Linked DNA regions of Homo sapiens: all the other regions are reported to be linked to region 1. Evidence: microRNA targets listed by miRTarBase, many of them from high-throughput screens and not tested one by one. Region 1 holds a microRNA gene; each other region holds the end of a gene's coding sequence.
Evidence for each region. Region 1 holds the annotated microRNA hsa-miR-6814-5p (UCCCAAGGGUGAGAUGCUGCCA, at 3,506-3,527, shown strand). A microRNA usually pairs through its seed, bases 2 to 8, with sites in the 3' UTR of a target mRNA and lowers its output. Matches are read on the target gene's strand: a 7mer-m8 pairs with bases 2 to 8, a 7mer-A1 pairs with bases 2 to 7 and ends in A, and an 8mer does both.

Region 1 (5,100 bases):
AATTGTAAAGGTCTTAATCACACAGACTTCTTGGAGAAGAAAAGTGGGTGGGAGCGTGTGAGCAGGCACTAAGCCTCCCATTGTGGCTGTTATCCAGCAGCACTGTGACTCGGACCCCGCATGTGAGCTCTGCCTTTTGGTCACTGCCGCCGCCAGCAGCCCAGGCTGACTGGTTTGACAGTGGCCATTGTGCATGTGCTTAGCTGGGGCTTTAAGCTGAGAGTTGCCTGGAAGTGTCACTTTGGAGACTAGTCACAGCTTGTAGAGTTTGGGGAGATTGAGATCCTCTCCATTTATTTTAGAGTTTGGAGTTCCAGCTTTTGAACCTGCCGTTTGAACTAATTTTCGATGGTGAATTCGTTGTCTATAAACAGCCCTCACCAACTCAGTGCTCCTTGGAGGCTCAGTTTTCGGACTTCTGTTTTTCTTTTCTTTTTTTTTTTTTTTTTTTTAATCAATTTGGGCACTTTTTTTGGTGTATCCAGAGTAATGTACATGAACGTATCCCTCATATTATCTATATATTTCTAAGCAGCCCCCGAAAAAGGCTTTGGGGCGTTCAGCTGTGTTGTCTCCTACGTTTTCTGCGCACTTTCTTTAACAACCCTCTAATGATGAACTCTCAGTGAGCCTCTGTTAGGAACGCTGAAATCTCAGCAAGCCTACGTTAGGAACGCTGATCAGAACCAGAATCCGTGTTTTCAGAGAATGAAATCATTGTTGGGGGAGGGCATGGGAGTTGCCCATCATTCATTCATCCATTTCTTCAGTAAATGCCTGCGCAGGTGCTCTGTGCCTGGTGCTTGCGAGAAGATATCAGTGAGGCACACAGGCGCTGTTCCCCAGGAGCTCACGCCCCGCATAGGGTGGCACCCTCTTTGGAAGTCCCTCAAGCTGCCTGAAGATTGTAGCCCAGTTGGCGAAGTTACTTGAGTCTGTCTGACATCTGAGCTATCAACATGCTGGGCTTCACTATAGAGAATTTTCTCTTTTTAAAAACAGGAGAAATATCTCGGTGTCATGGCTCTGTCTTTGGAAGGCTTCAGAACAGGTGTCTTCACGCCTGTTGCTGTGCATGAGTGCATTTGGCTTTGAGTCTCTGGCTGTCAGATGCTAACGTGCCTGGTTTCTCTTCCAGCTTTGCGATCGTCATCTGGGGCGTGCTCACACAGAAGAAGCCGTTTGCAGGTGAGTGGACCTGTCTTTGAGGTGTAATGTGCTTGTCTTTCCTGGAATAATGGGGGGACACCTTGTTGTCCTTTCTCTATCCTAAAACAGAGCCTGTGATCCACGCTGCCATAGGTGCTGCTCTGTGGTGTAATTTGCATGCAGGAAAAGACACAGATCTGAAGGGGCCTGTTCAATGGAATGTTTTTAGGTGCCAGCTAGTTTTTTTGTGGTAGTAAAATATATATAACATAAAATTGGTCATGTTAGCCATTTAAAGTGTATAATTCAGTGACATTAACTACACTGGCAGTGTTGAACAAGCGTTACCACTGTCTAATTCCAGAACATTCTCATCATGCTAGAAGGCAAAGCCCATGGCCATTCTGCAGTCCCTCGCCCTTCCTCCTGCTCAAGCCCCAGCAACCACTCACCTGCTTTCTGTCTCCAGGGGTTTGCCTGTGCTGGTATTTCCAGCTAATTCTTTTTTGTTTACTTTTTAAAAAAATAGTCATAAAATACACAGAACAAAACTTAGCATGTCAGCCGTGTGAAGCATACAGTTCAGGAGCATTACATGTACCCGCGTGCTTGCGCAGCCAACCTCCAGAGCTGCTCAGTGCCATGGAGTTGCTTGCAGGAGTGGCACCCCTGCCCAGCTTGAGAGCTGTGGTGTTTGCTTCCCCAGCCAGGCAGCCACCATTCCGAACACCATCCTCAAAGTTGTCACACCTTGACTTACTTATCATAAAAATCCAGGACTTTTTAGCTTTGTTGGACAGATTCCCTTTTCCTCTAAAGACATTTCTGGGCTACTCATGATATTTTGTGGTGTGACCGAAAATGTCTAAAAATGAAGATGAGAGTCAAGGCCTAGCCCCTTGTTAGTCGGGGCTCAGACTAGGAGCCGATGTATGGGAAAGTGCTGGGGTGAGAAGAGATCTTCCAGCATCGCAAGATCAAGTATCTTGGCAGCTTTAAAAGAATGTCAGTAGAAAGCACAGAACGCGTCCTGCCAGGCCTCTGCTGGCCGGTGTCCGTCTGTGTTGTCTGACCGCCTGTCGCCTTTCTTGCCTTCTGTACGTTCTCCCGCACAGTGGCCTACAGCCCGAAGGCTTGTGAAATGAGGCAGTGTCTGATAGATGTGACACCCGAAGCTAGGCGCAGGGGACAGGTCAAGGCTCAAGCCCTTGTGCTTTATTGCTGAATATGCCTAGTGTTCCCTTATTGGAACGCTAATCATATGGGAATTATTCGTGTCCTACTGTTCAAGGTCATCGCCAAGGTCTGATTTTTCAAATTCAAAAAATTGCAACCTCAGGCAAAAATGGGTAGGAGGGGGTTCAAGGTGCAGGAGAACAAGGCCTCTCCCCAGCTTTTCCAGTCTGTGCTTGGCAGCAGGAAACATTCCGGGCGTTTACTTCAGTTTGCTTCCATTTTATTTAGAGGAGCTGTTGGTTTTGAAGTCTGAATAATCATGGAAATAGCCTGCTAAACACTTAACGATATTTATTGCACAAGATTTAATGGGAAAGTGGAGCAAAACATTGTATGGAATCCTGGCAGCCGTGGGTGATTCTCGGCTGATTTTCCACACCTGCTGAGGCACATGGCCTCTCCAAAGAGCTGCCATTCCATGCGTGGGTGTGTTTGGATCTGGAGGGCAGAGAGGGCTGTTGGGAACAAGAACCTTGAGGGTTCCAGGCTAAGCAGAAAAAAGAACTTGGCCCACTGGATGTCACCCTGGGCCCTTCCCAGTCAGGGTAGAAGTTGTGGCAATAATAATAATAAGCTAGAGCCCATGCATGCTAGTGAAGGCAGTTGGAAAGGACAGGTGCGGCCCCACATGGTGAATTGAGGGGAAAGAGCCCTTCCACACATCCCAGCCCTGGTGCACCGGCAGGGGAGGCCAGCTGGGGACCTGAGCTTGGGATTGGAGTTGGAACTGAGGAAGACTTCTTCGCCATTGTAGAGAGAGTTGGGTCTCTGTGGATGTAGGACGCTGTGGCTCCTCCATGGTGCGTGAGCCTCATTCCCTTTGCTGGCTTGGGCTGTTGATGGAATGAGCCTCATAAGATATTGTTCTCCTTTGAACCTCATCTTCCTTTGGATGGGATGCCTAGAAAGATCTGCTCTGTGACCAAACACACTGACTCCTTCTGGTAGATCAGAACCCAGGGAAAGAGGTCGATTTCAAAACCAGGAAACTAGAGAGCATGGCGCACCATGAGGGTGAGGGTTACAGGAAGCTCTGCCTTTGAAACGGAGTGGGGGAGCCGTCTCCCTGGGGTGGTGTGGGGATGGCCCCATTGTGGCCCCCGGCGAGTGTGTCGTTTCCTCCCAAGGGTGAGATGCTGCCACCCAGCCCTGCAGAGCCCCTGACTCGCATCCTTCCCTTGGCAGATGAGAAGAACATCCTGCACATCATGGTGAAGGTGGTGAAGGGCCACCGCCCCGAGCTGCCGCCCGTGTGCAGAGCCCGGCCGCGCGCCTGCAGCCACCTGATACGCCTCATGCAGCGGTGCTGGCAGGGGGATCCGCGAGTTAGGCCCACCTTCCAAGGTGAGCACCCCGGGGTCTCCCCGCCACATTCTGTGGGTGTCACAGGAGACAGAGGTGACAGACAGGACAGGGTGAGGGACCAGGCCTGGGTGAGAAACAAGGCGTGTAACAGGTGGGCCGAAATGAGCCCTGCACAGATAGGTTGGACCCAGCACCTGCCTGCGGCCTCTGGTACTCACGGCTCGGCCACGGCAGCTGGAACTGAGTTGCCTCCAACCATCCGCCCCCTGCTCCCCACCAGGGTTGGGCTTGCCACCCAGAGGAGTCTGTATGGGAGCCTGAAGTTCAGGTGCAGCCATGCTCTTCCCGGGGACTTACCTGGCCGGTGGCCGGCGGCGTCGCCCTTCTCTTGAGGAGTTGACTTCCTGGGACAGATGTGTCTCTGGCATAGGAAAGTCACCCTGATGAGATGGAAACTGCTGCATTTAAAGCTTACGGCAGGAAACGGGCTGAATGGGGAGCTCATCCGCCAGGTGCTGGCAGCTCTGCTCCCTGTGACTGGCAGGTGGCGCTCCCCCGGGGAAGGCTTCCGCCTTGAGTCTGGTGAGGCCTTCAAATGATTACCGATGGGGGGGCCTGGGTTTGGCCAGCAAATTGTCCATGTAGGGCCCCTGGGCTTGCCTGGTGAGCTCAGGCTGGGCCGAGGCGTGTGAGAAATCCCCCAGCTCGTGGGGGCCCTGCGTTTATATGGAACGCGTGTGTACGCAGAAGTCATCATCCGAGTGACATGTCCCCTTTCTTCCCCACAAGAAATTACTTCTGAAACCGAGGACCTGTGTGAAAAGCCTGATGACGAAGTGAAAGAAACTGCTCATGATCTGGACGTGAAAAGCCCCCCGGAGCCCAGGAGCGAGGTAACGAGTCCTTCCCACAGGGGTCTTTTGTCTCCTCGGCTTCCAGGCAGGAGTTTCCAAACCACTCCTCTTTGCAGAGTCCCCCGCCGCCCGGACCACTCTCCCTCTCTTCTGAGCCCATCCCGCACCCAACTCCATTAGAAGTGTAGGTCCCATGGGGGCTCAGGTCCACCTGCCCGACTGCATCCCCGCCCCACCTCCTGTCTGATTCTGCGTGAGTGGCGGAAGGGCTTCCCTGACACTAAATAGCCACTCATTGGATGTGTGTGGACCACGGGGATCAGAAGGCCCAGCCCCGGCCGGGGAGGGAGAGCTGGTGTCTGAGTGTCTTTGCACCCCTGGCTCGGGGATCCAGTTCCTTTATAGCTGCCCATAAATGGTCTGCACTCTGATGAGTGCCACCCAGGTGATTTCAGATGTGATAAGAAGCTCCAAGTAGCAGGGCTGGCTAAATGCCTTTTCGGGTGATGAGGCTGGAGCAGACCTGTGAGGCCCAGCTGATAAGTGAGCTTTATAA
Region 2 (5,100 bases), not on the chromosome of region 1:
CCAGTCTGGGCAACATGGTCAAACCCTGTCTCTATTAAAAAATACAAAAAAATTAGCTGGGCGTGGTGGTGGGCGCCTGTAATCCCAGCTACTTGGGAGGCTAAGGCAGGAGAATCACTTGAACCCTCGAGGCAGAGGTTGTAGTGAGGGGAGATCTTACCATTGCACTCCAGCCTGGGTGACAAGCGCGAAATTCTGTCTCAAACAACAACAACAACAACAACAAAAGACCAGCTAGCTGGGACCCTTGGAGACCCAATGTGAAAGAGCCCCCATTCTGGGAGTGGGAGTACACGGCCCTTGCCTTGGGTGGACTCGGGGGCTGTTTCCTGACCCAGCCACCCACCCCTTCCAGCGCCCTGGTCCTGGCCTTCCGAGGAGCCCACCGGAAGCAGGAAGAGCAACGCCGGAAGTTGGAGCAGCAGATGGCACTCATGGAGGCTCAGCAGGCCGAGGAGGTGGCGGTGCTCGAAGCCACTGCAAGGGCCCTGGGGAAGCCCAGGCCTCCCCTCCCGCCTCCCCAGCTTGGGGACACCTTTCTGTAGGCCCCTTACCCAGCCATGTCTGGACATGCCAGACAGCTGTGGCATGTCATAAACTGTCCTGGAGTGACATCATGTCATGTTGCATGATTTGGCATGTTGGGGCACATTTGGCGTGAGGGAAGCTGGTGCACATGGGTGTCCAGGGCCTGATGGGGTGTGGCCAGGCAATGAAGAAAGACTCAGGTGTCTTTGGCCTGGCACCAAGTGGAATGTGAACTTCATATCAGTGGGGTCAGGCCAGAAGCAACCTGGGCTATGGGACCAGGTCCCTGGGACTGACGCATTTCGGGGGTCCGTGAGGTTGCATAGCCACAGCTGAAGTTCCAACTGGCCTGTCTCCCGAAGCCCAGGGAGGGATTCATGGGGACTGGACAGAGCTTCTCCTGGCAGCCCCTTCCCAGGGAGATGCTGGGTTTGGCTGGCAGATTTTCCTGAAGGGGGCCGGGCTCAGTGGTGCACATCTGTAATCCCAGCATTTTGGGAGGCCAAGGTGGGTAGATCACTTGAGCCCAGGAGTTCAAGACCAGCCTGGGCAACATGGCAAAACCCCATTTCTACAAAAAAATACAAAAATTAGCCAGGCGTGGTGGCATGTGCCTATAAAGATATTTAGGAGGCTAAAGTGGGAGGGTAACTTGAGCTTGGGAAGTGGAGGTTGCAGTGAGCTGAGATCACGCCACTGCACTCCAGTCTGGGTCACAGAGTAAGACCTTGTCTCAAAAAAAAAAACAGGCCAGGCGTGGTGACTCATGCCTGTAATCCCAGCACTTTGGGAGGCTGAGGCGGGGAGGATCACCTGAGGTCAGGAGCTTGAGACCAGCTTGGCCAACATGGTGAAACCCCCGTCTCTACTAAAAATACAAAAATTGGCTGGGTGTTGTGGCACATGCCTGTAATCCCGGCTACTCGGGAGACTGAGGCAGGATAATTGCTTGAACCTGAGAGGCGGGGGTTGCAGTGAACCGAGATCGCGCCAACAACAAGATCGTGCCCGGGCAATAAGAGCAAAACTCTGTCTCTAAATAAATAAATAAAACACAAAACAAAACAAAAAGGAGGGAGACTGAAGCTGGAATGGTTCAGATTCAGGGTGTGGATGACGAGTTGCTACTAACTCAAAGCTAAGGTCAAGGGTTTCTGGACTCCATGTGGTCGAGCTTGCCTGTAATCCCAGTATCTCAGGAGGCCGAGGGAGGAGGACTGCTTGAGCCCAGGGGTTTAAGACCAGCCTAGGCAAAATAGGAGAGTCTGTCTCAAAAATAAATAAATAAAATAAGGTAAAGGGTTTCTGGGTGGGGGACAGGCATAGCAAAGGTAATAGTCTGGGACTCAGGGGGCGTTGTACTTCAAGAGAAACTCAGAATGAATGCCAATGGTGGCCAGTTCCAGCTTTCTCCTGGGGGCCCAGGAGCTGTGGGACGTGTCAGGTTAATAGCAGGCAATGAATTAGCATGTCATTTGCATAAGTCACATCTCCCTGCCCCTCCACACCAGGACTGGCTGAGTCTGGGAAAGGGGAGCTTGGAACGACCCAGCCAAGCTTGGATTAGTGGCCAGCTGTCCCCCTTCAGGGTGGCAGCTGAAACCCGAGACAGGGATTAGAAAGACTTTCATTCCCAGCCTTGGGGGCAGGTGCTCCAGGCCTCACCTGTGCAGGTGTGTTCACCGCCTCTCCCAGGGCAGGACCACGTCAGCCTGAGGTCAGCGCCAGTCAGCGGCCTGGACTTGAATCCAGTCAACCTGACCCCAGAAACAGAACAAGAAGTATGGTGGCGAGCACAGTCCCCTCCAGCGAGGGCTGGGGCTAGTCACCTTCCGACCCACACGCTGTCCCTGGACTTGGGCCAACTTTGAAGAAAGCAGGGAAATGGAGGCAGACCACCTTGCTCGTGTTGGGGTGGGGCAGAGAAGCTGAATTTCTTCCCTGTACCCTGCCGAGCCCCAGAGTCTAAGACCTGAGTTCCTGGTCCCACCAGGTTGCCTGTGGAGGGGCAAAGGGAGCCAAGGTCACATGTGGGAGGACGGAGACAGGTTCCCAGGCTGCCCCAGCAGGATCTGGCCATTCCCACGGGTGCCCCCTCAGCAGATGGGCCTAGGCCCCTTTGTCCCTGGTTTGCGGCCGCCGCAAGGTCAAATGTTACTGCAGGGCCGCGGGCAGGGGTCAGGGAGGCGGGGTAGAGCCTTGATCCACCCCCAGGCGGGCCCCAGGGGGCACAGGGGTGGCCAGGCTACTGGAAGGGGGTGGGGCAGCCTTTGGGACTGGAACTACTGGAGTTTCTGGGATCTGCGATGGTCTTTCTTCCCCCATCTCCCACCCAGCTCTCAGCTGCCTCGCAAGACTTGTCTCCCCCAAACCTAGTTCTTTGCTCCCTCCCCTTCACAATCCCCTCAAGATTCCTTGAGTCTTCTCTCCCTCTTCTTTTTTTTTTTTTTTTTGAGACAGGGTCTTGCTCACGCTGGAGTGGAGTGACGTGACGTGATTATAACCCACTGCAGCCTTGAACACCTGGGCTCAAGACGGGTCTCACTTTATTGCCCCGGCTGGTCTTGAACTCCTGGTCTCAAGAGATCCTCCTGACTTGGCCTCCCAAAGTGTTGGGATTACAGGCGTGAGCCACAGCGCCTGTCTCTCATCTAAATCTCTTTTCAATCCCTTCTGAGACCTCCACCCCAATGCTCCCCACCAAAGATCCTAGCAGGTCCAGGCAAGGGGCCTAGGATCCCTGCCCTCATCCCAAATTACCAGTCACATTCCCATGCAGCCTCAGAACCAAAGGGTCGTCTCTGCCCACCCACGCCTTCCTCTCTCCCAGCAGGGATTACATCAGGCTGTGGGCAGAACCCGACTCTAGACCTCGGGAAGTCCTTGCTCATGTCTAATCCTAGTCCTTCCTGCTTTTCGTGTTTACTAACGCCTCCTCCTCCACCTCCCAGGCAGCCAGAACGTCCCTGGAGCAGGTTGAGAGGCCCAGGGCTGGGTGTGCCTGGCTCTCCCAGAACCTCAGTTTCTTTTTAAGTGTTGTAAGATCTCTAAGAATCTTTCCCCCTACTCCAGGGAGGGCAATTCTTCAAGTCTCATCAGGGCTCTGGGAGGCAGAGGAGGGGGTGCGCAGAAGGCACTGTCCTGGCCAGAGCTCTCAGAGGCCCAGCTGCATGCTCTGGTGTCCAGCTCTGGGCTCAGGGCGGGGTGGGACCACAGTCTGGGTGGCTGGGGCTGCAAGACTCCGAGGTGAAAGGTCACTCCTGGAAGGGCTTGTCCAGCCGGTTAAAGGTTAACCTGCCCAGAGCCAGAGGCTCGCCAGCCCGGGCCTCGCATACAAAGGGTGCTTAATAAATGCTGGTCGGGCGGGCCCCAGCCCCGGTACTGGGGGATGGGGTGAGTTGGAGGTGGCGGCAGCTGCGAGGCTCCAGGGCGCCTGGAAGAGACATCTGCAGTCCAGCCGGCCGCCAGGCCAAGCCCTTTCTGCAAAGCACAGAAAGAAAAGGAAATTAAAAGGGAAAAAGGGGCAGGCCCCCAGACAGGGCATGCCTGTCGCCTCCAGCCGCGCGGGGCGGGTGGGCGCCCTGCCCCCGGAGGCCAGAAATTCTGCAGAGGGGCCCCCTGACCTCGCGGCCCCGGCCAGCCGGTCTCAGACCACAACATCCCTTCCCCCTGGAGATTCCGGGCACCAGGTGTTAACCCGAGCAGAGAAAGGGTGGGGTGGGGGTCAGACGCGGCGACTTTCTGGAAGAGGAAGCAAACACAATCTAGGGTGTGTGTGTGTGTGTGTGTGTGTGTGTGTGTGTGTGTGTCTGTCTGTCTCGCGCGCGCGTGTGTCTTGCGCAGGGGCGTACCCCCCCCCCGGGTGCCACTGGCCCCCCATCATTGCTTTGCCAGGAACTGTGGGGTGGGGAGAGGTTCCGAGGGGCGCCTCGAGGGTGATCGAGCGACCCAACGTCCAAGGCCAGAGGTGGAGGGGAGGGCCTTGGAGAGACATCTTGGCGAGGCTCAAGGAAGGGCAGAGGGCAGGCGCGGCTGAGGCTCCCGCCGCGGCCCGGCAGGGGTTAAGGCCCGAGCTGGGCGAGGGCGAGGGCGGGGGTGCGGGGGGAGGGGCAGAGGGAGGCGGGGGAGGGTCAGGCCCCGCGGCCCAGCGCTCGGCCCCCGTCCCTCCCGCCGGCCCGTTCGCCCGGCGCCGCGCGCGGCCACCCATGCCCTTATAAGGGCGGCCGTCGCCGGGGCAACGAGCGCCCGCCCCCAGCCCGCGGCGCGCGCCCCTGCCCCCGCCCCCGCCCCCCGCCCGCCCCGCGAATGGAACGCTGTGTGTCAAACCGGCCGCAGCGCGAGGCCGGCGCGCGGGGTCGGTGGCGGTGGCGGCGGCGAGAGCGAGGCTTGGGCCCAGGCGCAGGCCCAGGCCAGGCAGGAGCGGCCGCAGCGGGGGCGGCAGCTCCAGAGGCGCCGGCCCAGCGGCCCTGCAGGCCCGGAGCGGCAGCCGCGGGCGCCGGGGGACCCAGGGGGCGCGGCGATCAGCCCCGGCGCGCACCCGCCGCCCCTCCCCCCCCGCCACGGGCGGCCGCG
Region 3 (5,100 bases), not on the chromosome of region 1:
TGCAGGTCTTCTCCAGAACAACTTGGAAGAAGGTAATGACCTGAAATCATTCTGGAAGAAGCTAACTCTGTTGGATGCACTTTATGAAATAGCAATGGCATGGAACTTAGTAAAACCAGTTACCATTAGCAGAGCATGGAAGAAGATTCTCCCTATGGTAGAGGAGAAAGAGAGCCTGGACTTTGATGTTGAAGATATTTCTGTGGCTACTGTGGCTGCCATTTTACAACACACCAAAGGATTGGAAAATGTGACTACTGAGAACCTTGAAAAATGGCTTGAAGTAGACAGTACTGAACCAGGCTATGAAGTGTTAACTGATAGCGAAATCATCAGAAGAGCACAAGGCCAGGCAGATGAATCCAGTGAAAATGAGGAGGAGGAAATAGAACTAATTCCAGAGAAACATATTAATCATGCAGCTGCCCTCCAGTGGACTGAAAATTTATTGGATTATCTAGAACAACAAGGTGATATGATTCTACCTGATAGACTGGTAATACGTAAACTTCGAGCCACCATCAGAAATAAACAGAAGATGACAAAGTCAAGTCAATAATGTCATTTCAATTTTATTGTTCTGCTCATTGTGTTTGTGACAAACTCTTTGCAATATGGCTTAATTTTCTTTGTGTTCTGAATTCTCAGACTTGGTCCTGTGAAATACAGGCACAAAATGTATCTGAAGTGGTTTGAGGATTATGTGTTTTCATCATCTGTGTCTTTTGTCCTTTTATTTGTACAGATAATCAGAAGATGATACTGAATAGATATAAATTACATGTACACATGTATTCACTTTTTAGAATCTGCAATTATACCTTCTGTAACAGTGGCATTCCCTTAATTTTCTAGTGAAAGTTAGAGATAACTGAACAGACTGAAGCACTTTTCTGAAATCTTTTGCTTGATTTATGAAGGCTGCCATAGTTATCTTTTCTTGTGTTAACCATCTTAAATGATGTTTTGTATATTTTAATAGACTGATAGGATGAGAAAGATTTATATTATTAGATTTCAGGATGATTTATAATAATTCAAAAATGAAATTCAATAATGGGGAAATAATTATGAATTATAGAAATTATGCCTTCATTCTCTTACATTTGTGTGGGTTGCAAGAGGGGGAGATTATTCTGGAAATGAAGTAAATATGGGAAGTTATTGCCAAATGAGAGAGAAACTATGGGAAAGCTGATCTATAAAGAGGCATTCTGATCAATTCATTTGTAGGAAACTGGGAAATAAAAACCTGGGGAACTTTAGGTTATTTATACAAAGGGAATAAATAGGCTGATTTTAATTTGGTAAGTTGATCTTTTTATTATGAATTTGGTAATAGTATAGGTTTATTATTTATTCATCTAATTTTATAGTACAGGTTTTGTAATGTTACATGTGATGATATGAGCTCCCACCTTATATGGGGGAACATCTTGGGAATTTGAGATTTAATAAGTTTTTTTTTTTTTTTTTTTAGTGTTTTTACTGCATACTCACAAATGTTGTCTATAATTTGAAAAATATTGTCATATCTGGCCCTTTGATGAGAAAAGGAAATTACAATAATAAAGTTTTATGATTTTAAATAAGTCATATGTTTGTATCCTGTTTTATGAAGAAAGCAGAAATAATTACTGAAAGTGCCAGACACTAAGGAATATTATTGTTTATTATTTTAATACATATAAAAAGGGATTAATCTGCTAAAATGTAATCTAAATCAGAATTTTGATAAATTTTTTTTGTAAACTAAGTATGTTTATTCAAGACATTGAAACTACTTTGCACATATGAATATTAATGTAACTTGTAATTTAAAAGTAAAGTGTTTCCATGCTATTTCATGTTTTGGCCAAAAATTTTTAAAAAATAAATTACAATTGTTCTCTATTAGTCATTTTTTAAAGGTTTAACTTTTTTTGTTGAAATACGTAACATTTTATAGTGCTTTCTGTAGAATACTAAAACTTCAAAAGTATTTTTAGTTTTCCATAATTTCTCTTATTTTCATGATAGGTGTATGTCTATATTTTTCAGAAGATGTGTGATGAAAGTGTTTAAAAATAGTGTTTATTGCATGAATTTCCTCAGTGTAGAGTGTGAAAAACCATCAGAAGTTAACATACATATTGAATCAGATAATGACACGTTCTGCTATAAAGTAAGCTGTACATAAAATAATTTTTCTAAAATGAAAATATGTACTACAGATCTTGGAATTTCTGTCTGGATTTGCACAGTTTTTAAAATTAATCATGTCAGCCCAATGCAGCTGTGTCATTGCCACCTAGTGGTAAAACTAACATTACTGTTAAGCTGTGTGATTTTAAACTTGAATCCCCAGTAAAAGGTTCACTGTTCTGTGGCCATAAGTGTGAATCTTGTGACTCTTTCTCTAGCCTGTAAGAGACTGCTCTTCTTTGGTTTACAGCTATTCTCTGAAATCTGCCAACACTGGTACTCTAGCCCTGTTTTGGATCCTTCTATCCTTAATTATAAAGGCTGATCAGTAGTTGTAGCAGTTGAAGCCAAAAGCTATTTGGGTTCTGTATCTGCCCCCAAAGTTGTATATCCTTAGCTCCTAATTCCTATTCTATCAGTGCCTTACCAGAGGCTGTGTTTGGCATTCTATTTATCTATTTAAAAATTTGCCATTGGCTTATGTTCTCTCACCAGTTTCATGAATTTTTTTCTCATTGATATGCCTTGACACAATACTCTCAGAAAGCCAATAACAGTGCAATGTTTCTTACACTTCCAGTAGTCAAGAATTTTGTGAGAGCAGATATACCTAATACAAGATCATGTAGGAAATTATAATGTTGCTTTTTTTTCTGAGAGATTTGGGCTTTTTTGTGGCGAGGGGGTTGTAGAAAGTTGAATTCTTTGTCATGATGAAATCCAGTAAATTAAAAATTTATTGAGTTTTACTGTATGTCGAAGACTGCCAGCTGTGGTGGGTTTAGGAAAATATGAAAGAAAGGGAAGAGGTTGCTTTCCTTGAACATCTTGAAATCAAGGTGGAAAAACTATACATGTTTGAAAAAAAAAAAAACCCCAAAACCATCTGCCTCAATTGTAAGCTCATATAAAAGAACCAACATAACAAGATGTGAGCTATGTAAAAAAACCATCAAGATTTAGTTGCTTATTCATTTCTCCTCTGATTTCTATTCTGTATACCCTTTACATTCTAAGCTATGCATTGGTCTTGATTTTTGCTGCTCCTGAGTGACTTCATCCTTTTCCCTTATCTGCATGTGATCCAGTCACCCTGTCTGGCTCTATGATTTATATATTCAATTGAGAAATTGGACTTAGTCTAGAAGGGAAATTAAAATTAATGCTTTGCTTCCCATCCATAGTGAACTCTCCATTAGCATCATAATGTCAGAGCCACCCAGATGGGTTAAGAAGTTCAAATAATTATTTAACTCAGTTGTTGACATCTCTACTCATATCAAAATTATTATACCTCCTTATGCCACTCATAAGTGTCAAAATACAGCTCAGCTGCCTTGGTCTGAAGTAGCAACATTATTATCTGTATCTCTTCTTAGCCTTTCCTAATGCATACACATGCCCTTTCTTCTCTCCATTTCCTCCAGTGGGCAGTTGTAGTGGTTTCTTTTTTTTTTTTTTTTCCTTTGGTATCCTTATTGCTACTTAAGTATTAAAATTTAGTTTGTTATGATTCAGCCTTAAAAGATCATCACGCAAATTCTTTAAGACTAACGGACTACACTTCTTAGATATGTACCCTTATCTGTTTTTCCTATTGAAGTCTATGACAACTTTGTTTAATAATTAGTCTCAGGCAGTCCTATGCAATTAGAAGTTGGGATGGAAGCTGCAGGGCACGGTGGCTCACACCTGTCTTTGAGGGGCGGAGGCGGGTGGATCACGAGGTAAGGAGATCCGGACCATCCTGGCTAACACGGTGAAACCCCGTCTCTACTAAAAATACAAAAAAAAAAAAAAAAAAAAGAAAAAGAAAAAAAAATGGTCGGGCATGGTGGTGGACACCTGTGGTCCCAGCTACTCCTGAGGCTGAGGCAGGAGAATGGTGTGAACCCAGGAGACGGAGCTTGCAGTGAGCTGAGATCGCGCCACTGCACTCCAGCCTGGGCGACAGTGTGAGACTCCATCTCAAAAAAAAAAAAGAAGAAGTTGGGATGGAAGAATGACCAATAGCAGTTTCTTCCACAGTGACACCTAATGTGAAAATGAGTGTCTGTAGTGCCTCAGATTCTATAAGAATTGCCATATTGTAAAGTGATTCTTGTGGTTGTGTCTCTTAATACTGGAATATAAGCATCTACAGATCAAAGACTATGGGATCAATGCTTTGCAGAGTAGTATATATTCAACAGACATATACTTAAACACTAATTGTATATCATGTATAAGACATGTTCTAGATCATGTATGGGATATATGGCTAAGACTATCTGCATTCAAGAGATTTACAATGGAAAGGAGGAAACAGACATGTAAGAAAGGGAGAATGAGTTAAGTGTTACTGGAAGAGTGCAAATGAAAGACTAATTCTGATGAGTGGCATAAGGAGGTATAATAATTTTGATATGAGAAGTAGAGATGGCAACAACTGAGTTGGCCTTCAAAAATAATATTTTCATGATGTTTTGTAATTCTTAAGATATTTTCGTAGACACTAGCTCAATGTCCAAGAGATCATCTAAAGGATACATTTGGTTGGGAAAGTAAACCTTAATTTAATCTTAGCTGCAGGGATGAATCCATTTGTTTAACTGAGAAGTCTTACTGAGGCTTTGCTTTTTCAGTCTTATTTCCTTCCTACTGTTTGTAGTCTGGAGAAATAGTTTTTGAAACCTACAAAAGCCCCCAGATTTCTGGACTTTCTCTAAGCCAAGGTATTTAACTGAATGTCAGAATAAAGGTATGCTTTATTTTGCTTATAACTGACTAATTTTCTGAGCTCACTTCTTTCTTGTATTATTTGCTGAACACAGCAAGGAGCAAATAACGTTAATTTTCTGGCTCTTTCCAGCCACTTCCTCTAGAGAAGGGCTTCTTAACTTCAGGGTTATCATGATGCAGATAACTCTCTGTTGT
Region 4 (5,100 bases), not on the chromosome of region 1:
GGAGAAGAGGCAGGGTGGTCCACTTAGGGCAGGCTTGAGGGACTGGCCTGGAAGGGCAGGCTGAAAGTGGGCTTCCCTCCAGCCAGTCCAGCTAACCCCGCAGTGATGCCTGGGTGCAGGAGCAGCTGCAGAGACCTTGAACCACACAGGACGGCCCTTGGCAGCCGCCCAGCCTCCAGGGTGGGGTCAGGTCCTCCCGGGCAGGCCGCCCCATCCAGCTGCATGCATGGAGTAACGCATTCACCTGCTCTCACAGCAGGACGATCTCCGGCAAATCCCAGAGACAGGACAGACACACACCGCCAGGACCTGTCGGGCGTGGCATTTCCCGCGGGCTGTTTTGTGGAGTCTGGGGGTCTGAGTCTGGGGGAGCAGTCATGGGTGTCTCCATGTGAACCACTCGATGACCTGTCTGCCCGCTGGTCCACAGGGCAACTCCAGAGAGAAGCATCCCCTGGCCCGGTGGGAAGCCCAGACGAGGAGGACGGGGAACCGGATTACGTGAATGGGGAGGTGGCAGCCACAGAAGCCTAGGGCAGACCAAGAAGAAAGGTACAGCCCCTGCTCTCCAGCTGCCGTGGGCCAAGGATTGGAGGTCTTGCCAAGCTGCAGGACCCCCAATCCAAGGGAACAGCCGAGAGTGTGGGTGGAGGGGCCATGGTGGGGGCTACAGGGTGCACCCATGGGTGCTCCAAGAGGGCAGCTTGGCGACTCTGTTCCTCTGTTCTGGCCAGGGGCGTCAGGCAGGGAATTCTGGTGACTTCAGGGGCAAAGAAGTGGGCACCGGGTGGGTCTCCCAACTCCACTGCATCCTCCTGGCTGCGACCTTGGACCAAGTGACAACCTCCCAGAACTTAGTTCCTCACTTGGTGCCCACCTCTCAGAGAAGACATCGCACACACGGCCGGGCACGGTGGCTCACGCCTGTAATCCCGGCACTTTGGGAGGCCGAGGCAGGCAGATCACCTGAGGTCACGAGTTCGAGACCAGCCTGGCCAACATGGTGAAACTTCATCTCTACTAAAAACACAAAAAATTAGCCAGGCATGGTGGTGGGTGCCTGTAGTCCCAGTTAGTTGGGAGGCTGAGGCAGGAGAATCATTTGAACCCTGAAGGCGGAGGTTGCGGTGAGTTAAGATCACATGCACTCAACCCTGGGTGACAGAGCGAGACTCCGTCTCAATAAATAAATAAAAAAACAGACATTGCACACAAAGCCTCAGCCCAGCAGGCACTCGGTCAATGCTGGAAACAGACAGGAGGCAGGGACGTTGGGAAATGTAACAGTGGCTGAGACGCGCTGAGGAGCCACCGCAGGCCAGTGAGATGGTGCGGCGCTAAGCGCTCACACGTGCACCATCTCTTAGCACCCAAAGCCACAGAGCAGTTAAGCCACCTGCCCAAGGCCACATCTTGAAGTAAGGGGAGGAGGAGATGGAATCCCCAGTGGTCAGACATCAGACATCAAAGCCTAGGCTGGGTCTACTGCTTGGGAAGCACGATGGACCCCCAGAGGGCCTTGAAGGCTGCCCAAAGTCCCCATCTGGGAGACCCAGGCCGTCATCTCAGCGAGCAGGCTGGAGGGTGGAAACCACAGTGAACCTGGGTGGTCAAGAGTCAGCCCCAGAGGCAGGTGCAGGAGTTTGAGCCAAATGTGCAGAGCCCCACGTCATTCATTCAACCAGTATCCACTGGGCCCCTGCTACGGGCAAGTCCTGCTCTAGGTGCTGGGAACACCAACATAAAGAACAGCAAACCCCTGACCCCTTAGAACTTGCATTCTGGTAGGAGAGAGAAAACAGATAGGGCTGGACACAGCGGTCATGCCTATAAATCCCAGCACTTCGGGAGGCTGAGGCGGGAGGATCCTTTGAGCCTCTGAGTTTGAGGCCAGCCTGGGCAACATAGCAAGACCTCTCTCTCTACAAAAACTTTTTTTTTTTTTTTTTGAGACAGAGTATCACTGTCACTCAGGCTGGAGTGCAGTGGCGCCATCTCGGCTCACTGCAACCTCCACCTCCTGGGTTCAAGCGATTCTCGTGCCTCAGCCTTCCAAGTAGCTGGGATTACAGGCACACGCCACCATGTCCAGCCTCTATAAAAACATTTAAAATTAGCCAGGCATGGTGGTGGATGCCCTAGAGTCCCACTGACTTGGGAGGCTGAGGTGGGAAGATCACTTGAGCCTGGGAGGTCAAGGTTGCAATGAGCCATGGTTGCTGCAGTGAGCTGTGGTCGTGCCACTGCACTCAAGCCTGGGCAACAGAGCAAGACCCCATCTCAAAAAAAAAATTTAAAAATTAGCTGGGCATAGTGGTGTGTACCTGTAGTCCCAGCTACTTGGGAGGCTGAGGCAGGAGGATCGCTTGAGCCCAGGAGTTCAAGGCTACAGTGAGCTATGATTGTACCACTGTACAGCCAGGATGACAGAGTGAGACCCTGTCAAAACAACAACAACAACAAGAAAACAGATAAGAAGACATGGCATGTTCACTGGTGGTAAGTCTGGCAGAGAGAAACAAAACAGGGAAGCGGGGCAGGAAGTAGTGTGGGGTTGTGGGCAAGACGCAGTGTTGCAATTTAAGGAAGGCGGCTAGGGAAGCCTTTCAGAGCTCCCTTCCTCACCCCATCTGGGGGAAGGACATCCAGGCAGAGGGGACAACAGAGGCCCCAGGGTGGAGTGAGCCCCACAGGTCTGAGCAAAGCCAGGGGCCAGGGAGGAGCAGGTGAGGGGAAACTAGTGGAGGTCGAGGCCGTTGGTGGGGAGGCTGACCAGGCAGGGCCAGCACTTGGGGTTTTACTGCATGAGATGGGAGGGAGGGAGGGAGATAGAAAGGTTGTTTTTTCTTTTTTTTTTTTTTTCGTTCCTGTCGCCCAGGCTGAAGTGCAATGGTGCAATCTTGGCTCACTGCAAACTCCGCCTCCTGGGTTCAAGCGATGCTCCTGCCTCAGCCTCCCGAGTAGCTGCGATTACAGGTGTCTGCCACCACACCCGGCCAATTTGTATTTATTTTATTTTATTTTGTTTTTTGAGAGGGAGTCTCGCTCTGTCACCCAGGCTGGAGTGCAGTGGCGTGATCTCGGCTCACTGCAACCTCTGCCTCCTGGGTTCAGGTTTCTCTTGCCTCAGCCTCCCGAGTAGCTGGGATTACAGGCACACGCCACAACACCTGGCTAATTTTTGTATTTTTAGTAGAGATGGGGTTTCACCATGTTGGCCAGGCTGGTCTCAAACTCCTGACCTAAAGTGATCGGCCCACCTCAGCCTCCCCAAGTGCTGGGATTACAGGCATGAGCTACCATGCCTGGCTAATGGGAAGGTTTTGTACAAAGACTGGCTGGATGTTTCTAATTCAATTTTTCTGGCTGTTGGGCAGACAAATGGGTACTGGGAGAGTGGGTACAGGAAGCCCAGGAAGGACCCAGGCACTGGTGCCATCTGGGCAAGGGGTGGCAGCAGTGGAGACAGGGGTAGGCAACATGGTGAAACGCTGTCTCTACATAATATACAAAAATTTGCCAGGTGTAGTGGCGCATACGTGTAGTCCCAGCTACTCGGAGGTTGAGGCGGGAGGATAGCTTGAGTCTAGGAGGTTGAGCTGCTGTGTGAGCTGTGATTGCACCACTGCACTCCAGCCTGGGCCACAGAGCAAGACGCTGTCTCAAAACAAAAACAAAAAGAAGAGGCCAGGCGCAGTGGCTCACGCCTGTAATCCCAGCACTTTGGGAGGCTGAGGCAGGCTGATCACCTGAGGTCAGGAGTTCGAGACCATCCTGGGCAACATGGGGAAACCCCATCTCTACTAAAAATACAAAAATTAGCCAGGTGTGGTGGCGTGTGCCTGTAATCCCAGCTACTCGGGAGGCTGAGGCACGAGAATCACTTGAACCTGGAAGGAGGAGGTTGCAGTGAGCTAAGATCGCACCATTGCACTCCAGCCTGGGCAACTACGTCTTAAAAAAAAAAAAAAAAAAAAAAAAAAAAAAGCCAGGCGCGGTGGCTCACGCCTGTAATCCCAGCACTTTGGGAGGCTGAGGCGGGCGGATCACAAGGTCAGGAGATCGAGACCATCCTGGCTAACACAGTGAAACCCCGTCTCTACTAAAAATACAAAAAATTAGCCGGGCATGGTGGCAGGCGCCTGTAGTCCCAGCTACTTGGGAGGCTGAGGCAAGAGAATGGCGTGAACCCGGGAGGCAGAGCTTGCAGTGAGCCGAGATCACGCCACTGCACTCCAGCCTGGGAGACAGAGCAAGACTCTGTCTCAAAAACACAAAAACAAACAAACAAAATGGGCCAGGCGTGGTGGCTCACGCCTGTAATCCCAGCACTTTGGGAAGCCGAGGTGGGCGGATCACGAGGTCAGGAGATCGAGACCATCCTGGCTAACATGGTGAAACCCTGTCTCTACTAAAAATACAAAAAAAAAAAAAAAAAATTAGCTGGGCGTGGTGGCGTAGTCCCAGCTACTTGGGAGGCTGAGGCAGGAGAATGGCGTGAACCTGAGAGGCGGAGCTTGCAGTGAGCCGAGATCGCGCCACCGCACTCCAGCCTGGGTGACAGAGTGAGACTCCATCTCAAAAAAAAAAAAAGAAACCCAGTTATTGATGTGCGGCTTCTGTTCTCAGCCAGGAGGCAGGCTCAATGGTGTCCCCAAACCAGTGGTTATGGTTCTCAGGAACAAAATACTGATCAAGGCAAACCTCCTTCTACAAACTTTCCTCTTCATTTAAGGAGCCAAGGCAAAGAGGGACCACTGTGCTCATGGACCCATCGCTGCCTTCCAAGGACCATTTCCCAGAGCTACTCAACTTTTAAGCCCCTGCCATGGTTGCTCCTGGAAGGAGAACCAGCCACCCTGAGGACCACCTGGCCATGCGTGCACAGCCTGGGAAAAGACAGTTACTCACGGGAGCTGCAGGCCCGTCACCAAGCCCTCTCCCGACCCAGGCTTTGTGGGGCAGGCACCTGGTACCAAGGGTAACCCGGCTCCTGGTATGGACGGATGCGCAGGATTTAGGATAAGCTGTCACCCAGTCCCCATAACAAAACCACTGTCCAACACTGGTATCTGTGTTCTTTTGTGCTATGAATTTGGA
Region 5 (5,100 bases), not on the chromosome of region 1:
GGCTGGTCTTGAACTCCTGACCTAAAGCTTCCCAAAGTGCCTGCCTCAGCTTCCCAAAGTGCTGGAATTACAGGCGTGAGCTGCTGCACTCAGCCATAAATCGTGTCACTTTTCCACTTAAAATTTTCCAAGGGATTCCATCTTGCCAGGGAAGAGCATGTCAAAGGAGAATCCAAGCGCTTTTCCCGCCACCTCCAGTTCTCTGCACTCTTTTTTTTGTTTTTGTTTTTGGCGAGTAGGGGAGACGGAGTGTAGCTGTGTCACCGAGGCTGGAGTGCAGTAGTGCGATCTTGGCTCATTGCAACCTCCACCTCCCGGGTTCAAGCGATTCTTCTGCCTCAGCCTCCCAAGTAGCTGGGATTACAGGCGCCCACCACCACGCCCAGCTAATTTTTTGTGTTGGCCAGGCTGGTCTCAAACTCCTGACCTCGTGAGTTGCCCACCTCAGCCTCCCAAAGTGCTGGCATTACAAGCGTGAACCACCATGCCCGGCCTGCACTCTTCTTTGAACAGAACTCTGTTCTTGTCCTGGGGCCTCTACCCTTGCCATTCCCCTGCCCAGTATGTTCCTCCCTGTTCTTCACATTACCTGTGCCTTCCTGTCAATCAAGATCTTTGCTTCTCACCCTCTCTGAGGTCCAACCCTGAACCTCAGGTCCTCCAAGACAGAGGCCTGGGGACCTGCATGTTTAACCAGCTCCCCAAGTGATGAGTGAGGTCCAGGCAGGTATGGTGTACACCACCTCCATCCCTTCCATGTATCTTACCTTCCTCTTCTCCAGGAAGCTCAGCCCGGAGCCAGAAACGGGAGGCCCGCCTGGACAAGGTGCTGTCGGACATGAAGAGACACAAGAAGCTGGAGGAGCAGATCCTTCGTACCGGGAGGGACCTCTTCAGCCTGGACTCGGAGGACCCCAGCCCCGCCAGCCCCCCACTCCGATCCTCCGGGAGTAGTCTCTTCCCTCGGCAGCGGAAATACTGATTCCCACTGCTCCTGCCTCTAGGGTGCAGTGTCCGTACCTGCTGGAGCCTGGGCCCTCCTTCCCCAGCCCAGACATTGAGAAACTTGGGAAGAAGAGAGAAACCTCAAGCTCCCAAACAGCACGTTGCGGGAAAGAGGAAGAGAGAGTGTGAGTGTGTGTGTGTGTTTTTTCTATTGAACACCTGTAGAGTGTGTGTGTGTGTTTTCTATTGAACACCTATAGAGAGAGTGTGTGTGTTTTCTATTGAACATCTATATAGAGAGAGTGTGTGAGTGTGTGTTTTCTATTGAACACCTATTCAGAGACCTGGACTGAATTTTCTGAGTCTGAAATAAAAGATGCAGAGCTATCATCTCTTAAAAGGAGGGGCTGTAGCTGTAGCTCAACAGTTAGGCCCCACTTGAAGGGAGAGGCAGAATTGTACTCACCCAGATTGGAAAATGAAAGCCAGATGGGTAGAGGTGCCCTCAGTTAGCACCTGTCCCATCTCGGGCCCTCCAACTCCTCCCAGTCCCACTCCAGTGCAGCCAGCTGGCTCCAAGGTAGAAACCCATGAGCACTCAGGGAGCAGTGTGCCTTCAGCTGCAGCAGAAGCAGCCCGGAGGATAAAATGAGAACCAGCTGCACACGGGCCCTTTAACTCCCAAGCCCCACCCCTGGGCTTGGCCTGCCTTGCCCTGCCGGGAAGTGATCCCCAAGGCAGGGTGAGAGTTCCCCATCTGAGGCGTTTGTTGCAGCTACCTGCACTTCTAGATGTGAGTACATTGTACTAGCCCCCCAAACCCCAAATCAGGGGCAGATCTTTGTATCCCTTGAGGCTCTCTTTAGTCCTGTCTTGCTTTGAAGGGCCTTGCTTCTGCTGGGGCAGGGAAAACATGTCTGAATCAGAGTGGGGAAGGAGGATGGGTGGTGGCTTTGCTTTTGGAGGTTTCACTTTCCAATAGTTGGGAGTCTTCTGGGTTTTGAAGTAAAGGCAGATTAACACCAACACCGGTCCCCCACCCCCCTGCAACTCTCAGGCCTCTCTCTGACTTCAGGGTCCCACCTGGGAAATCAGGTGGGGAACCTTACAGGGTCATTCAGACCCCATCTTAGCCCTAGATCGGTGCTTGCTCTACTCACCTGCACTGTCCTGGGGACCTGGGCTCTGGCCTGTCACCTTGAGCTCCAAGAATGTGACCTGTACCCATTCAGGCCCCTTAACTCTGACAGATGAGGGTTTCTTACTCCTCCATGCAGGGCTGGGCCAGCTGTTGGTCTCAGTCGATCATTCAGGAAGTCATTAGCAGAGTGATTTCCAGAAGGCGTAGAATTTAGTGACCAAGGTTCTTTCCTTTTTGGGAGGAGAAAGTGAAAACTAGGATGCTCAGCTGGACCCACCAGCCTGAGATTCTGGGGATTTTAGAGCTGTCCCTTGGGGAGCCAAGCACTTGGGGGTGGAGGTGATAGCGAGGCTGATGGCCCCTGTGTTCTCAGCTCTCTGCCTGGGTAGCCCCTGGGTGATGGGGGAGAGGCCAGCTGTCACGTGGGGTATCAGGTGGCTCTGCCAGAAACTCCCTTGGCACACAGAGCACTGGGTCGGCCCTCGGGTGTGGCTGTTTGGGCAGGACAGCCCTCTGTATGTAGCCTTGAGCAGGTAGGGGGGCCACCTTGAGTGGGTGGCCCAGAGACAGCCTCAGGGCTCCAAGGTAACGGGGTGCTCAGGTTATCTTGGGTGCTGCCCTCCCAGGTTCTGGGGGAGCAGAGGCTGGGCGCTGGCCCAACTTACAGGAAACACTCACCTTTGAACTGCCATTAGCACCATCTGGGCAGTACACAGCCCCACCCAGGTCCTCTAGTTCTTGTTCTCGGCTTAGAATCTTTGTGTTTCTGCCTGAGAAGCCACTGCCTCCTAGTTTGTGGTCTCTACAGTTATAGCCAGGTTGGACTTCCGGCTCCGTCCTTTGATAACTGTGTGCTCTTGGGCAAATTTCTTAACTTGCAGGTTCTTGTGAGGATAACATGAGTTAATTGAGGGCACTTAACACTACCTGGCACAGATTAAGCTCATCTGAAGTGGGAGCTGTTACTTAGGGGCGTTTGCCTAGAACACAGGGTCCAGAGGCTCTCTCCCGGAAACTTAGACCCAGTGAGTCAGAAGTGAGGCCTGCAAAAAGCAGCAGGAGTGGGGTTAAGAATTCCAGCCTAGGGCTGGATGCGGTGGCTCAGGCCTGTAATCCCAGTACTTTGGGAGGCCCGAATGGGAGGATGGCTTGAGGCCAGGAGTTCCAGACCAGCCTGAGCAACATAGCGAGACCCTGTCTCTGTTTGTGTGTGTGTGGTTGGGGTTTTGTTTTTTTTTTTTTTTTAAAGAATTATAGCTCAGTCCTATGATTAGGCAAGTTGAGAAAATATTGATGAAGATCAGGGGTGCTGAAGCCTGGTTCCTGGGGTCGCTTCTGATCTAGGCGGTTCTTGCCTCTGGTGACTGGTGTTAATTGGCAGGAGTGGGAGGAGGGAGGACAAGTGGAAGTCTAGGCTGGCTGAGCTGTTCTGTCTCGAAAAGTTCCTAAAACTGTGCTGCTTTAAAAAAAAAAAAAGTAATTTATGAGACACATTCTCAATTTCCATTAATCATCTCCTAAAGGGGGTAAACCAGGAAGCCGCTGGGTGAAAACAGGCTGTTGGCAATTCCTGAGTCATGTGACCCATTCTCTAAAGACTAGAATATTTAACTTAAATCAGTGAGAAACTCTGTGAAGTTGTGTCCTTGTTTATACCAAACTTCATGTGCCTTTTCCTGAACCTGAAGCTGTGGGAAGGTCTGGGGGCAGGGCCGCATCACCGACCTTACGTCCAACCTCAGGACTGCCTGGAGCAAGAGCCCTGGGGTTGGGGACAAAGGAGGCTGCCTGGACCTGGGTAAGGGAAGGGGCTGGAGGAGAATGAGTGCAATTCCCTGCCCTTCACAGCCTGCAATCGGAGCTGTGTTTTTGTTTTTGAGACAGAGTCTCGCTCTGTCCCCCAGGCCAGAGTACAATGGCGCAATCTCGACTCACTGCAACCTCTGCATCCCTGGTTCAAGCAATTCTCCTGCCTCAGCCTCCCGAGTAGCTGAGACTACAGTTGCCTGCCACCATGTACGGCTAATTTTTGTATTTTTAGTAGAGACGAAGTTTCACCATGTTGGCCAGGCTGGTCTCGAACTCCTGAGCTCAGGCAATCCGCCTGCCTTGGCCTCCCAAAGTGCTGGGATTACAGCCACTGCGCCCGGCCTGAAACTGATCTTTATCCTCCTCCCAGTTCCTACTGTGCACCAGAGACCCTCCAGTCTCTAATACCTTTGACTTGAAGAGCAGTCATTTTTTTTTCCTTTTCTTTTCTTTTCTTTTTTTTTTTTTTTTTTTTGAGATGGCCTCACTCTTGCCCAGGCTAGAGCGCACTCGTGTGCTCCATTTACGGCTCACTGCAGCCTTGACCTCCCAGGCACAGGCGATCCTCCCACCTCAGCCTCCAAAGTAGCAGGGACCACAGGTGTGCACCACCACACCTAGCTAATATTTTTTATGGTTTTTATAGAGACAGGGTCTCCCTATGTTGCCCAGGCTGGTCTTGAACTCCTGGCCTCAAGTGATCCTCCCATCTTGGTCTCCCAAAGTGCTGGGATTACAGGTGGGAGCCACCAAGCCTAGTCAACAGTCACTTTTATTCTCACTTCACTGGAGAGGAAGGCTCAGAGGCTAGTAAGTGGCCCAGGAGCATGCTGGCAGTGATAAAACCTGCTGGAGTGACATTTTCCCACTGGCTCTCAATCCTGGATATATATTAAGAGTCAGAGGCCAGGCGCGGTGGCTCACGCCTGTAATCCCAGCACTTTGGGAGGCCAAGGCAGGCGGATCACGAGGTTAGGAGATCAAGACCATCCTGGCTAACACAGTGAAACCCCATCTCTACTAAAAATACAAAAAAAATTAGCTAGGCGTGGTGGTGGGTGCCTGTAATCCCAGCTGAGGCAGGAGAATGGCATGAACCCGGGAGGCGGAGCTGCAGTGATCCGAGATCGTGCCACTGCACTCCAGCCTGGGTGACAGAGCGAGACTCGTCTCAGAAAAAAAAAAAAAAAATGAGGGAGAACTTT

Region 2: miRTarBase lists USHBP1 as a target of hsa-miR-6814-5p. Seed matches in the 3' UTR shown: 7mer-A1 at 1,186-1,192.
Region 3: the mRNA of JRKL is a reported target of hsa-miR-6814-5p. Seed matches in the 3' UTR shown: 7mer-A1 at 1,436-1,442.
Region 4: the mRNA of LAT2 is a reported target of hsa-miR-6814-5p. The part of its 3' UTR that is shown has no 7-base or 8-base seed match.
Region 5: miRTarBase lists PAGR1 as a target of hsa-miR-6814-5p. Seed matches in the 3' UTR shown: 7mer-A1 at 1,066-1,072 and 7mer-m8 at 2,396-2,402.

The regions. Positions count from the first base shown.
Region 1 is chr21:41,745,242-41,750,341 of GRCh38, reverse strand. MIR6814 (microRNA 6814) reads left to right here and starts at 3,501; the gene lies at 3,501-3,570. It overlaps RIPK4 (receptor interacting serine/threonine kinase 4), which reads left to right. Exons shown (of 8, transcript NM_020639.3): 4 at 1,139-1,188; 5 at 3,571-3,729; 6 at 4,480-4,583.
Region 2 is chr19:17,245,670-17,250,769 of GRCh38, reverse strand. It overlaps USHBP1 (USH1 protein network component harmonin binding protein 1), which reads left to right. Exons shown (of 13, transcript NM_031941.4): 13 at 356-1,599. The coding sequence ends at 545. NR2F6 (nuclear receptor subfamily 2 group F member 6) reads left to right here and starts at 4,851. Exons shown (of 4, transcript NM_005234.4): 1 at 4,851-5,100. RefSeq lists enhancers at 1,070-2,018, 2,019-2,968, 3,918-4,867 and silencers at 4,131-4,210, 4,611-4,860.
Region 3 is chr11:96,391,666-96,396,765 of GRCh38, forward strand. It overlaps JRKL (JRK like), which reads left to right. Exons shown (of 2, transcript NM_001261833.2): 2 at 1-1,896. The coding sequence ends at 559. Among named protein-coding and RNA genes, the nearest start is that of JRKL, 4.2 kb to the left of the region's middle.
Region 4 is chr7:74,224,209-74,229,308 of GRCh38, forward strand. LAT2 (linker for activation of T cells family member 2) reads left to right here. Exons shown (of 14, transcript NM_032464.3): 13 at 431-552; 14 at 4,736-5,100. The coding sequence ends at 534. Among named protein-coding and RNA genes, the nearest start is that of LAT2, 17 kb to the left of the region's middle.
Region 5 is chr16:29,818,773-29,823,872 of GRCh38, forward strand. It overlaps PAGR1 (PAXIP1 associated glutamate rich protein 1), which reads left to right. Exons shown (of 3, transcript NM_024516.4): 3 at 783-3,717. The coding sequence ends at 982. MVP (major vault protein) reads left to right here and starts at 1,690. Exons shown (of 15, transcript NM_005115.5): 1 at 1,690-1,738. MVP-DT (MVP divergent transcript) reads right to left here and starts at 1,595. Exons shown (of 4, transcript NR_186424.1): 1 at 1,412-1,595; 2 at 768-829. RefSeq lists enhancers at 1,334-1,403, 2,095-2,661, 2,124-2,413.